Regions from separate parts of the Homo sapiens genome. Here all the other regions are linked to region 1. Evidence: fine-mapped expression QTL. A gene starts in region 1. Each other region holds a variant in brackets. All regions are shown on one strand. Distances are between the middles of the regions. Region 1 holds the start of GCNT2 (glucosaminyl (N-acetyl) transferase 2 (I blood group)). Region 2 overlaps GCNT2 (glucosaminyl (N-acetyl) transferase 2 (I blood group)). Region 3 overlaps GCNT2 (glucosaminyl (N-acetyl) transferase 2 (I blood group)). Region 4 has its middle 4.1 kb from the start of LINC02522.

Region 1 (2,763 bases):
GAGTTGAGGATTGAGTGTATTCTATAAATGGGATATTATGAGAAGCTAGAACAGCAGCCCAATCTCCGTGCCCGAGGCTTTGTTTGTTGTTTTCACCTTTCTGGATGGAGTTTTGCTCTTACCCTCCCGACCTCTATCGCTCAGAAAGTCCTTGATAGGATTTTGAAGTTACAGGAACCAAAAATTACTGCCATAGGTAGAATACTTCCACAAGGGAGACCTCAAGCTTCTGATCACTAAGAATAATTACATGAAAGAATATAGCCTCCCTTCTTCCGATAATTGCAATATGCTGTTCAATCAGAACAGAGTGCAAAGAAACAGATCCTTTACGCTGTAGGGTCCCCAGGGCCTGGGATTACAGTCTCCCTATTTCTTCTGGAAAACCACAGCCTACAGGTAACTACCCTCTATTTGGCCAATCTACTACCAGGTGCAGAAAGACTATTTACAAGTGACGACTCTCAAAGGCCTACATTTAAAAATAAGGAAAACAGAAAAGTAGCTTTGAGTTTGGCAAAACCTGAATTTACTTAGTAGACCTGTCTTTAATATCAGAAGATGGGTTTTCATAGAATGGCAATATGGATCTACTACTTTTCTACATGGCCCAGAGCTTCATTTTCAATTTTACCTATTATCAAATGAGGTTCATACCTCACAGGAATGTTCATACCTCACAGCAACTAATTAAATAAAATACATTTCAGGCTGTGGACGGTGGCTCACGCCTGTAATCCCAGCACTTCAGGAGGCTGAGGCAGGTGGATCACATGGAGTCAGGAGTTTGAGACCAGCCTGGCCAACATGATGAAACCCCATCTCTACTAAAGATACAAAAATTAGCCGGGCTTGGTTGTGCATGCCTGTAGTCCCAGCTACTCAGGAGGCTGAGGCAGGACCCAGGAGGTGGGGGTTGCAGTAAGCTGAGATCGCACCACCGTACTCTCGCCTGGGTGACAGAGTGAGACTATGTCTGGAAAAAAAAAAAAAAATTTAAATGCCAGACAGTACCAAGTACCTTATCAAATTCTGGAAACATTTTCCCTTGCCTGAAGGAACTGAGAAACATAAACCATTAAGTCTGAAGTGAACGTTGTTCTTTCCTACAAAGTTAAAAGTTGTAACTGAGATACAGAAGGATACTAATGATTTAGAGACAGATGGAAAACCCTCGTGCCCAGTAGGCCCATCATGTAATGAAACAACATACAAACATGCTATTCTTTGAAAAAAAAAAAACCTTTGAAAACAGAAATCTCATGACCAAATGACTCATTCAACATTTTTTGGTGTACTTACTTTATGCCCGGCACTGTGCTAGGTTCTGGAAATATAAAACATCCACGCAGCCCATTTGAGTACCAGCCTATTGGACCTTAAACTGCTGTCAGCGATTTAACAGAGGTAACACGAGAAGACCAGCTCCCCGCAGTTTCCTCCCTCCACCAGTTTCCCAGCACGCTGACCTCCACCTACCTCTCTCAGTTCCCAGGAGGGTAAGATTGCCCAGAGGCGTCCAGCAGTGAACACAGTAAGCCTGTTTAAGGTAAACGCAGTTTAACCCTAGCGTTTTAAGTGGAATAACAGAGGCTGGAATGTGAAAGTGGGAAGGTCTGTTTGCTTTCAGTCCCACCCCCAAGGCCTGCCCTAAGAGTCTGAGACAGGAGAACACACGTCTACAGAGAGCCTGCCTAGAGTCTGGATTTTTTAAGCTGCTGGATACCAGGTGCTACCTGACACCAGCTCATCCCCTGCCTCTAGAGTCCTGGAGGGCTTTGAGTTGATCACTTTCCACTCCAGGAATGTTATAAGAAACCGCTCAGAAAGGTAACTGCCCTGGGTGTAACTGGGTTTTTCATGAGGACACTCCAAGATAGACCTCAGGATAATTATTTGGGTGTTTTCCTAAGACTACCCTCCATTTTGCCCCCTTAGAGGCTGCTTTTTCAAGAGGGGAAGTTTTGGATTCCCTCACAGACCCCTCGTGTTTAAGGTTCCACTCTTATGTTTAGTTATTGGTAGGAAATCTTATAGTCTCTGCCCCAGGGTAACCTCTAACAGATTTAGATATGTGTTCTGCTCAAATGCTACCCACACTGGGGAAGGGGAATCCTAAGGTGGCAGCAGAATTTAGTAGAAAATGCCCTGGGCATTTTCAGAAGGCAAGTTCTCTCCTCTCTAATGCAAGCTGTATATCTTGAGCAAGTCACTTCCTCTCTCTGAACCTCTGGCTTTTCCTAGGCCAGGCAAACGGGCTCTTTACATACCCTTTCAGGAATGAACTGATTCCTGTCCCAGGAAACAAGCTAGTCATACCGTGCATTTAGCCATATCCCTCTCTTCTGCCAAACACTTTGCAGTCAGAAGCAGCTTATAAAATTCAGTGGGGATAAAGCAGGGTATGGTGGTGTGCACCTGCAGTTTCAGCTACTAGGGAGGCTGAGGCGGGAGGGTTGTTTGAGCCCAGGAATTCTGAGACCAGCCTGGGCAACATAGTGAGACATCAACTTAAAAAAAAAAAAAAAAAAAGAAAAAATCCAACTGAGTTAAAAAAAATTTTTTTCCAGTCATAAAGCCAGGATAAACTGAAGAAATAGCAAATCAACTTTTTTTTTTTTTTTTTTTTTTTGTGACAGAGCCTTGCTCTGTCACCCAGTGCAGTGTCACAATCTCAGCTCACTGCACCCTCTGCCTCCCAGGTTCAAGCAATTCTCCTGCCTCAGCCTCCTGAGTAGCTGGGACTACAGGCATCCACCACTA
Region 2 (2,500 bases), 24 kb before region 1:
TATTTTCTTTTCTTTTCTTTTAAACGGAGTCTCACCCTGTCACCCAGGCTAGAGTACAATGGCGAGATCTTGGCTCACTGCAACCTCCGCCCCCTGGGTTCAAGCAATTATCCTGCCTCAGCCTCCTGAGTAGCTGGGATTACAAGCACCTGCCACCACGCCTGGCTAATTTTTTTGTATTTTTAGTAGAGACAGGGTTTCACCATATTGGCCAGGCTGGTCTCGAACTCCTGACCTCATGATCCGCCCACCTCGGCTTCCCAAAGTGCTGGGATTACAGTCATCAGCCACCGTGCCTGGACAACAGTAGGTTTTTAGTAGTTGAGTTTTAGGGGAGTCAAAAGCTATACATAGGTTTTTGGCTACACAGGGGTTCAGTGGGCCTAACCGCCACATTGTTGGCACTGGTCAACTGCATTTGTCTGAAACCTGTAGATAAAATGGACAAAGCTGCTCTCAGCCAGAGGTATCTGGCCAAACGGCTTCAACTGTCCTGGGTTTTGCCTGCCGTATATGCTGCTGAGATCAACGTGTAGCCCATCTGTAACCCATTCCCAGCAAGTCAGCATGCACAGACATGGCAGGGAAGCTCAGCAGTGAGGCATAAAGAACAGCAAAAGAGGCTGCCGTTACAGGAATCAGTTTAAGAAGCTAAAAACACACATCGGGAAAATATTACACATGGGGAAAAGATCAAGTCATTTCTAGCTGCCCTTGGAACTAGACCCTGCAACCTTTGGAACAACTCCAGGTTTCTACTTTCAGGCCCCACATCTTGTCAACAGTGACCTATCCATTGTAACTGATTTTATTTCTTAACCTTGCCTTTTCTTTAATTTCATTTACCCTGCCATCTTAACCATCCCTTGTATTGCCTGGGAGCTGAAAAGCAAGGAAGTCTTACACCCTCCTCCACTGCTGGCTTTTGCCTGATTCACAAAGCTGAAGACACTTGAGTCTCCCAGACCAGGACTAAACTCAGGAAAGCAGCTAAAAACAGCTTCACATGGCTCAGGATTTGAATGGAAAATTCTACAAGGGTGACTGATTTACCCTTCATGAAAACTGTTATGATTTTTCACAAGGCACGAAGGAGGTTAGGATTGCAAC[G/A]ATCATAGGAATTTGAAGTTCGCTTTATTCCTAATAAGGAGAATACTAGAAAGAGACACAGTTATGAATCCTTCGAGGTAAAAACAAAAGAACATGAAACCCTGTCAGAAACTGTCCTAAGTTTGTCAAGCTCAGGAACACAAAAGGTAGTATTTAAAGCAGCAAAAATCACTAAGGAAGTTTGAGCTGGCTTGATGTGGATTTAAACAAAACTCCAAAGTTTCTAGGTGGTCAAATGTCGATAGCGCAGACCAATGAGCACCCACAAAAATGGAGATCACAGCCAAGGCACAGCTCTTGCAAAATGGAAAAAGCCAAAAAAGTAAAAGCAAAGGCACCAACTAGGACTTCAGCACGAACCCTTCAGCTCACCGTGCAAGAGCTGGGAGGAAAAGGATATAGACTAGAAAGAGAAGATACAGTTTTATTAGAAAGGAGGGGGCTGGGGGGCTGTACCCACTTGATTCTTAAAAAGAGGAATGATGGTTTACATAAAATCGCAGAAAAGGAATCTAATCATAGTAACTACATATTAGGATTAAATTAAATTGCTTTATTTATTTTCCCAGCAGCTCTCTGACCACCTCATTTATTTATTTATTTATTTATTTATTTATTTATTTGAGACAGAGTTTTTGCTCTGTTGCCAAGGCTGGGGTGCAGTGGCACAATCTCAGCTCACTGCAACCTCTGCCTCCCGGTTTCCAGTGATTCTCCTGCCTCAGCCTCCCGAGTAGCTCAGATTACAGGTGCCTGCCACCACGCCCAGCTAATTTTTTGTATTTTTAGTGGAGATGGGGTTTCACCACGTTGGCCAGGCTGGTCTCGAACTCCTGATCTCAGGTGATCTGCCCACCTCCACATCCCAAAATGCTGCTATTACAGGCATGAGCCATCATGCCCGGCCCCATTTATTTATTTATTTATTTATTTAATATTTTATTTTATTTTATGTATTTATTTTTGAGATGGAGTCTTGCTCTGTCACCCAGGCTGGAGTGCAGTGTGGTGATCTCGGCTCACTGCAACCTCCGCCTCCTGGGTTCAAGCAATTCTCTGCCTCAGCCTCCCGAGTAGCTGGGATTATAGGCACCTGCCACCACGCCCTGCTAATTTTTTTGCGTTTTTAGTAGAGATGGGGTTTCACCAAGTTAGCCAGACTGGTCTTGAACTCCTGACCTCGTGATCCACCTGCCTCAGCCTCCCAAAGTGCTGGGATTACAGGCGTGAGCCACCGTGTTGCCTATTTTACTTTTTGAGACAGAGTCTTGCTGTCGCCCAGGCTGGAATGCAGTGATGTGATCTCGGCTCACTGCAACCTCCGCCTCCTGGGTTCATGCAATTCTCCTGTCTCAGCCTCCCAAGTAGCTGGGATTACAGGCGCACACCA
Region 3 (2,500 bases), 36 kb before region 1:
AAATCAGCTCCTAAGTACCTAATGCTCCTCAATGATATGCGAATGGTGGAAACAACAGATCAAAGGTGAAGAGAGGATGAACCCAGGCAGAGGCAGGTGCGGAAACAGTGTGCGCAGCATACGAGTGAGCCGCATTCACCAGGAAAGTCACCCTGGGATTCAAACACCAGGCATGGTATTTTCCAGAGAATGCCGGCGTGTTTATCGCCCAGCAGGCCCTGCCCTGCAGCCTGAGAGCACCTACCAGCCTTTCGAACTTGGCAATCCCCCAACAGCCAGAACAATGATTGCTTTTCTCTTGCTATAATAATGCTGTCTAGTTCATCAGAGATCCATTTTGTATTTTTCATTGAGTCCAAAGCACGCTGTTTTCTTCAGAAGAAATCCCATCATGTTTTATACACTTTAAAAAACAATCGGTCTGGTAAATTAGTAAAGATAGGAAAATTCGGGTGAGAAAGCAAGGAGTTTCTGCTAGGATCTCATTATTTTATTTGAAATAAAATGTATTTTTAAAAATCCTACACATATAATATGGTACATGCATGAGTCCAAATATTTCTCAGCTCAACAATGTCTTAGGGAGACAGCTCTGGTGCCATAGTAAAGCTTCATGCTTTACCATTCATTCACTCACTCACTGATTTATTCATCTAATATATACTTATTGAGCATTTACTCTCTGTTCTAAGCACTGAGGAGCAGTTAATGAGATAGAAAATAACCCTGGCTTCATGGAACAAATGCAGAGGAGACCAAGAACAAACCCATGCAAATAGGTAAATATCCTAATTCCACAGGGCAATAAACTCTTTAAAAGAAAAACAGAGTGGTGTGCTGGCCAATGAGGGGGAGTATCAGAGCTGCTGACACCTGAGAGCTGAGATCTGGCTAAGGGGAAGGAGCCTGTGGAGGCCTGGAGTAGGCAGGAGGGTGGCCAAGGCAAAGATCCTGGGGTAAGAGCAAGCCTGACAAATTTAGAGGAAAGAAAGAACACCAGTGTGGACTAACAGCTATTGTGGTAAAGATGTAATAAGATGATGTGTGAAAAAGAACTTGATGGACCACCAAGTGATAGCATGGAAAGGTATTACTTAGTAGTGCTAGAACATGTGAATTATCACATAAAGAACATCATTCTGGGCTAGGCATGGTGGCTCATGGCTATAATCCCAGCATTTTGGGAGGCCAAGATGGGGAGGATAGCTTGAGCTGTGGAGTTGGAGACCAGCCTGGGCAACATAGCGAGACCCTGTCTGCACAAAATTTTTTTTAAAAATTAGCCCAGTATGGTGGTGTGCACCTGTAGTCCCAGCTACTCAGGAGACTGAAGTGGGAGGATTGCTGGAGCCCAGGAGGTCCAGGGTTCAGTGAGCCATGATGTTGCCCCTGCACTCCAGCCTGGGCCACAGAGTGAGATCCAGTCTCAAAAAAAAAAA[AG/G]AACATCTTTCTGCATTTAGAAAGGACTAGGGTGAGAACTATATATGTTCCAGTTTTCATCTTCTACTTCCTAATAAAAAGTGGCTGGTTATTCTAAAGCCCTTTCAAATACGACACATTTCTTTTGCATGAAATATGGAATTGTACGTACCTGGAATCCTATTGAGTGTCACCCAGAAATGCTCATCAGGACTGAAAGTGTCCTTGGACCACTGGAGCAAATCAACAGCCCGTGGGTCATGCAGAACAAAGTTGGCAAACTCTCTTGATAGAGCCACATAGGCAGAGCCAAAGTAAATTGTGAGATTATGGGGGGGAGGCGGTTTCAACGCTGTTGTTCTTATCACATAGGAAAGCTCTTTGCCCAGGTGCTCTTGGTGGACATATTTAGTCCGTCCAATTGCATGAGCTGGGGGCAGCACCCCTGGGGTGATATTTTTACCTTTAAATCCTTTCAGATACTGAACTATTTCCTTGTTGGTTTTCAGGGGGAAGTCTTGCCCACAGGTGTTGATAACGTACTTCCATGAGACCTCGAAGGCAGAAAGATCTCTGATGCAGTTCAGGTCAGCCTGGAGCCTGGAGATCCCTCCATAGACAACGGGTTCCATCTTGGAAGCCAGAAAAGCGTTTGGGAAGCAGCTTAATAGTTGCTCTACCGCATCTTTAAATTCAGTTGTTGCTTTTTCATCCACATGAACACAGTAGATATTTTGGGGCATGTAAATAGCCCTGAAGAGCCTTGCAAAGGTGTCAAAGTGATGATGGATGACCATTATATATGCCAAGGGAAAGTCAGCTTCTTCCTTAGATAAAGGGGCTGTGATGTAGTGGCTCTGGGTCAAGTATTCCTTGCAAGAAGACTTCTCATGGATCATTAGTTTGTTTTTCCACAGGAAACGTGTTTTTCCATTGATAAAAGATGTGCAAACTTGAGTCAGCCTCAAAGGGTCTGAGATATTTAGCCTTTGGAAGCTTGGATCTCCCCCAAAATTGAACACAGAGAAGACGATAAAAATAATTACACTAGAGACAGAAATTATGAAGAGGTAACGCATTG
Region 4 (2,763 bases), 35 kb after region 1:
CACTCTGTATCTAGGTAATCTAGCGGGGACATGGAGAATTTTTGTGTCTAGCTCAGGGATTGTAAACGCACCAATCAGCACCCTGTCAAAACAGACCAATCAGCTCTCTGTAAAATGGACCAATCAGCAGGATGTGAGTGGGGCCAGATGAGAGAATAAAAGCAGGCTGCCTTGAGCTTCCAGTAGTAATAAGCTGTAACCTACTTTTGCTGTGTGGAAGCTTTTTCTCCTCCTCCTCCCTCGTTTTGTTTCTGCTTGGTCTTTAGGTCTGTGCTGCTTTTGTGAATTGTAGCACTCATTATGAAGGTCTGTGGCTTCACTTCTGAAGCCAGTGAGCCCACAAATTCACTGAGACGTAACTCCAGACGTGCCAGTTTTACGAGCTATAACATTCACTGTGAAAGTTAGTAGCCTCACTTCTGAGCAAGGAAGACTACATAATCCACCAAAAGGAAAAAAACTGAACACATTGGAACATTAGAAGGAGCAAGCTCCAGACATGCCGCTTATAAGAAATTTAATACTCACTGTTAAGGGCCCATGGTTTCATTTTTGAAGTCGGTGAAACCGGGCACTGACCAATTCTGGACACACCAGCAGCCCTGGAAAAGCATAAGTTTGTGAAGACTATTTGGAAAGTCTGAGTCCCTGTCCCTGGAGTGTGTCTTTTCTGTGTGTGTGTGTGGTTGTGTTGGTTTTTTTTTTTTTTGGAGTTTTTGGTCTTGGTTCCCAAGTTGGACTGCGTATGATCTCAACTCACTGCAACCTCTGCTTGCTGGGTTCAAGTGATTCTCCTGCCTCAGCCTCTGCTAGCAGCTGGGATTACAGGTAGGAGGCACCATGCCTAACTTTTGTATTTTTAGTAGAGATAGGGTTTCACCATGTTGGTGAGGCTGGTCTCGAACTCCTGACCTCAATCCGCCTGCCTCAGCCTTCTAAAGTGCTGGGGTTACAGGCATGAGCCACCGCAGCTGGCCTACAAAAAGTTTTAAACTATCCAGGCATGGTGGCATGCCTGTGGTGCAGCTATTCAGGAGACTGAGGTGGGAGGATCACTTGATCCCAGGTGAGCTCTGATTACACCGCTGCATTCCAGTCTGGGCAACAGGGCAACTCAGACAGTTGATGTCCAAGATCAGTAGCTGGGAGGGGCAAAATTCTCTCTTAGCCTCTTTTTTACCTGTTCAGGTCTTCAGTTGAT[T/C]GGATGAGATCCATCCACATTAGGAAGATAATCTGCTTTACTCAGTTTACCAATTCGAAGGTGAATCTCACCCAGAAACACCCCCACAAACACACCCAGAATAATGTTTGACCAAATATCTGGGCACTCCATGGCCCGCCGAGTCGTTGACATGTAAAATTACCCTTTACGCCCAATAAGAAAGTTAAGGTGCCAGGCACAGTGGCTCATGCCTATAATCCCAGCACTTTGGGAGGCCGAGGTGGGGGGATCATTTGAGGTCAGGAGTTCAAGACCAGTCCGGCCAACATGGTGAAACCCCATCTCTACTAAAAATACAAAAAATTAGCCAGGCGTGGTGGTGGGTGCCTGTAATCCCAGCTACTTGGGAGGCTGAGACAGGAGAATCGCTTGAACCCAGGAGGCGGAGGTTGCAGTGAGCCGAGATTGTGCCATTGCGCTCCAGCCAGGGCGACAGAGTGAGATTCCAAAAAAAAATAAAAAAGTTAGGGTCAGGAAAGCAGACGCAGATTTTTCAATCTGCCTGGAATAAAGTGCTGTGGTGTGTGTTTCTTTTTCTTTTCCTGACCTGACAGTGTTTGTGACGATGCTGCCTATAAAACAGAAGACACTTGTTCATCCAGCACAGCTGCCAGCAAGATCATCTAGATTAAAGTCACTACGCCACAGCAGGTGACGAAGATGTGTTCTCTGAAATTATAAAGTGACTCAAGCTCTGAAAATCTGTGGAAAGAAACTTAAGGACAGAAAATCCTAACAGGTCTCAACGGCATCTGTTCATTACATCTTTTCCAAAAAGAAGTCCATCCTCTCATTTTTTCTTTTTAAACAAGACTTTCATCCTAGCACAAACCTATGACCAAAACGTCATCAAAAGGAAGGAAAGGAAGAAGGTTGAGGAATGAAAAAAAAAGTCAGATGAGTGATTTTACATACACGATCTCATTCAATTTATTGCTCGCCAAGACCTATAAAAATAGATATTAACCTAGCAATTGTACTCTTAGGTATTTATCCCAGAGAAATTACAATGTACATTAACATAAAAACCCATATAAGAATGTTCATAGGAGTCTTGTTCATAATAGCCCAAAATTTGGAGACAGTCCAAATGTCCTTTAATGAATAGTTAAACTGTGTACATCCAAACTACAAACTATCACTTAGCAATCAAAAGGAACAAATTCACAATAAATGCAACAACTTGGATGAAGCTCCAAGGAAGTATGCAGAGTGGAAAAAAATCCCACACACGCCTACATGATTCTATGTATATAACATTATTGATAATACAAAGTTTTGGAAGTGAACAGATTTGTGGCTGCCAGGCATTGAGGGGGGTCATGATGAAGACAGGTAGGTGTGGCTGTAAAAGGACAACAGGAGAGGTCAGAGTTCTTTGTGGTCATGGCTGGGGAAGTAAATACACAAACCTACACATGCGATATAGTTATTTAGAACAAAATACACATGAGTAACAGTGAAACTGAATAAAATTGGTAGTTTATGTACATTTTAATATACTAGATGCAATATTGTATGATAGTTTTGCAAACTTTACT

Evidence for each region. PIP is the estimated chance that this variant, and not a neighbour inherited with it, causes the effect.
Region 2: its variant is the best candidate, but not a certain one, in a credible set for the expression of GCNT2 in aorta (GTEx, PIP 0.87).
Region 3: its variant is the best candidate, but not a certain one, in a credible set for the expression of GCNT2 in iPS cells (HipSci, PIP 0.54).
Region 4: its variant is the best candidate, but not a certain one, in a credible set for the expression of GCNT2 in testis (GTEx, PIP 0.54).

What each region holds. Positions count from the first base shown.
Region 1 is chr6:10,520,134-10,522,896 of GRCh38, reverse strand. GCNT2 (glucosaminyl (N-acetyl) transferase 2 (I blood group)) reads right to left here and starts at 1,546. Exons shown (of 5, transcript NM_145649.5): 1 at 1,480-1,546. It overlaps LOC101928146 (a long non-coding RNA gene), which reads left to right and starts at 1,491. Exons shown (of 3, transcript XR_001743961.2): 1 at 1,491-1,549. RefSeq lists an enhancer at 1,200-1,259.
Region 2 is chr6:10,544,179-10,546,678 of GRCh38, reverse strand. All of the region lies in intron 3 of GCNT2 (glucosaminyl (N-acetyl) transferase 2 (I blood group)), which reads right to left. Among named protein-coding and RNA genes, the nearest start is that of GCNT2, 24 kb to the right of the region's middle. The variant G/A (reference allele first, on the strand shown) is at 1,111.
Region 3 is chr6:10,556,434-10,558,933 of GRCh38, reverse strand. The region is part of intron 3 of GCNT2 (glucosaminyl (N-acetyl) transferase 2 (I blood group)); the gene reads right to left. Among named protein-coding and RNA genes, the nearest start is that of GCNT2, 36 kb to the right of the region's middle. RefSeq lists enhancers at 1-379, 2,313-2,500. The variant AG/G (reference allele first, on the strand shown) is at 1,440.
Region 4 is chr6:10,484,678-10,487,440 of GRCh38, reverse strand. No RefSeq gene overlaps it. Among named protein-coding and RNA genes, the nearest start is that of LINC02522, 4.1 kb to the right of the region's middle. The variant T/C (reference allele first, on the strand shown) is at 1,202.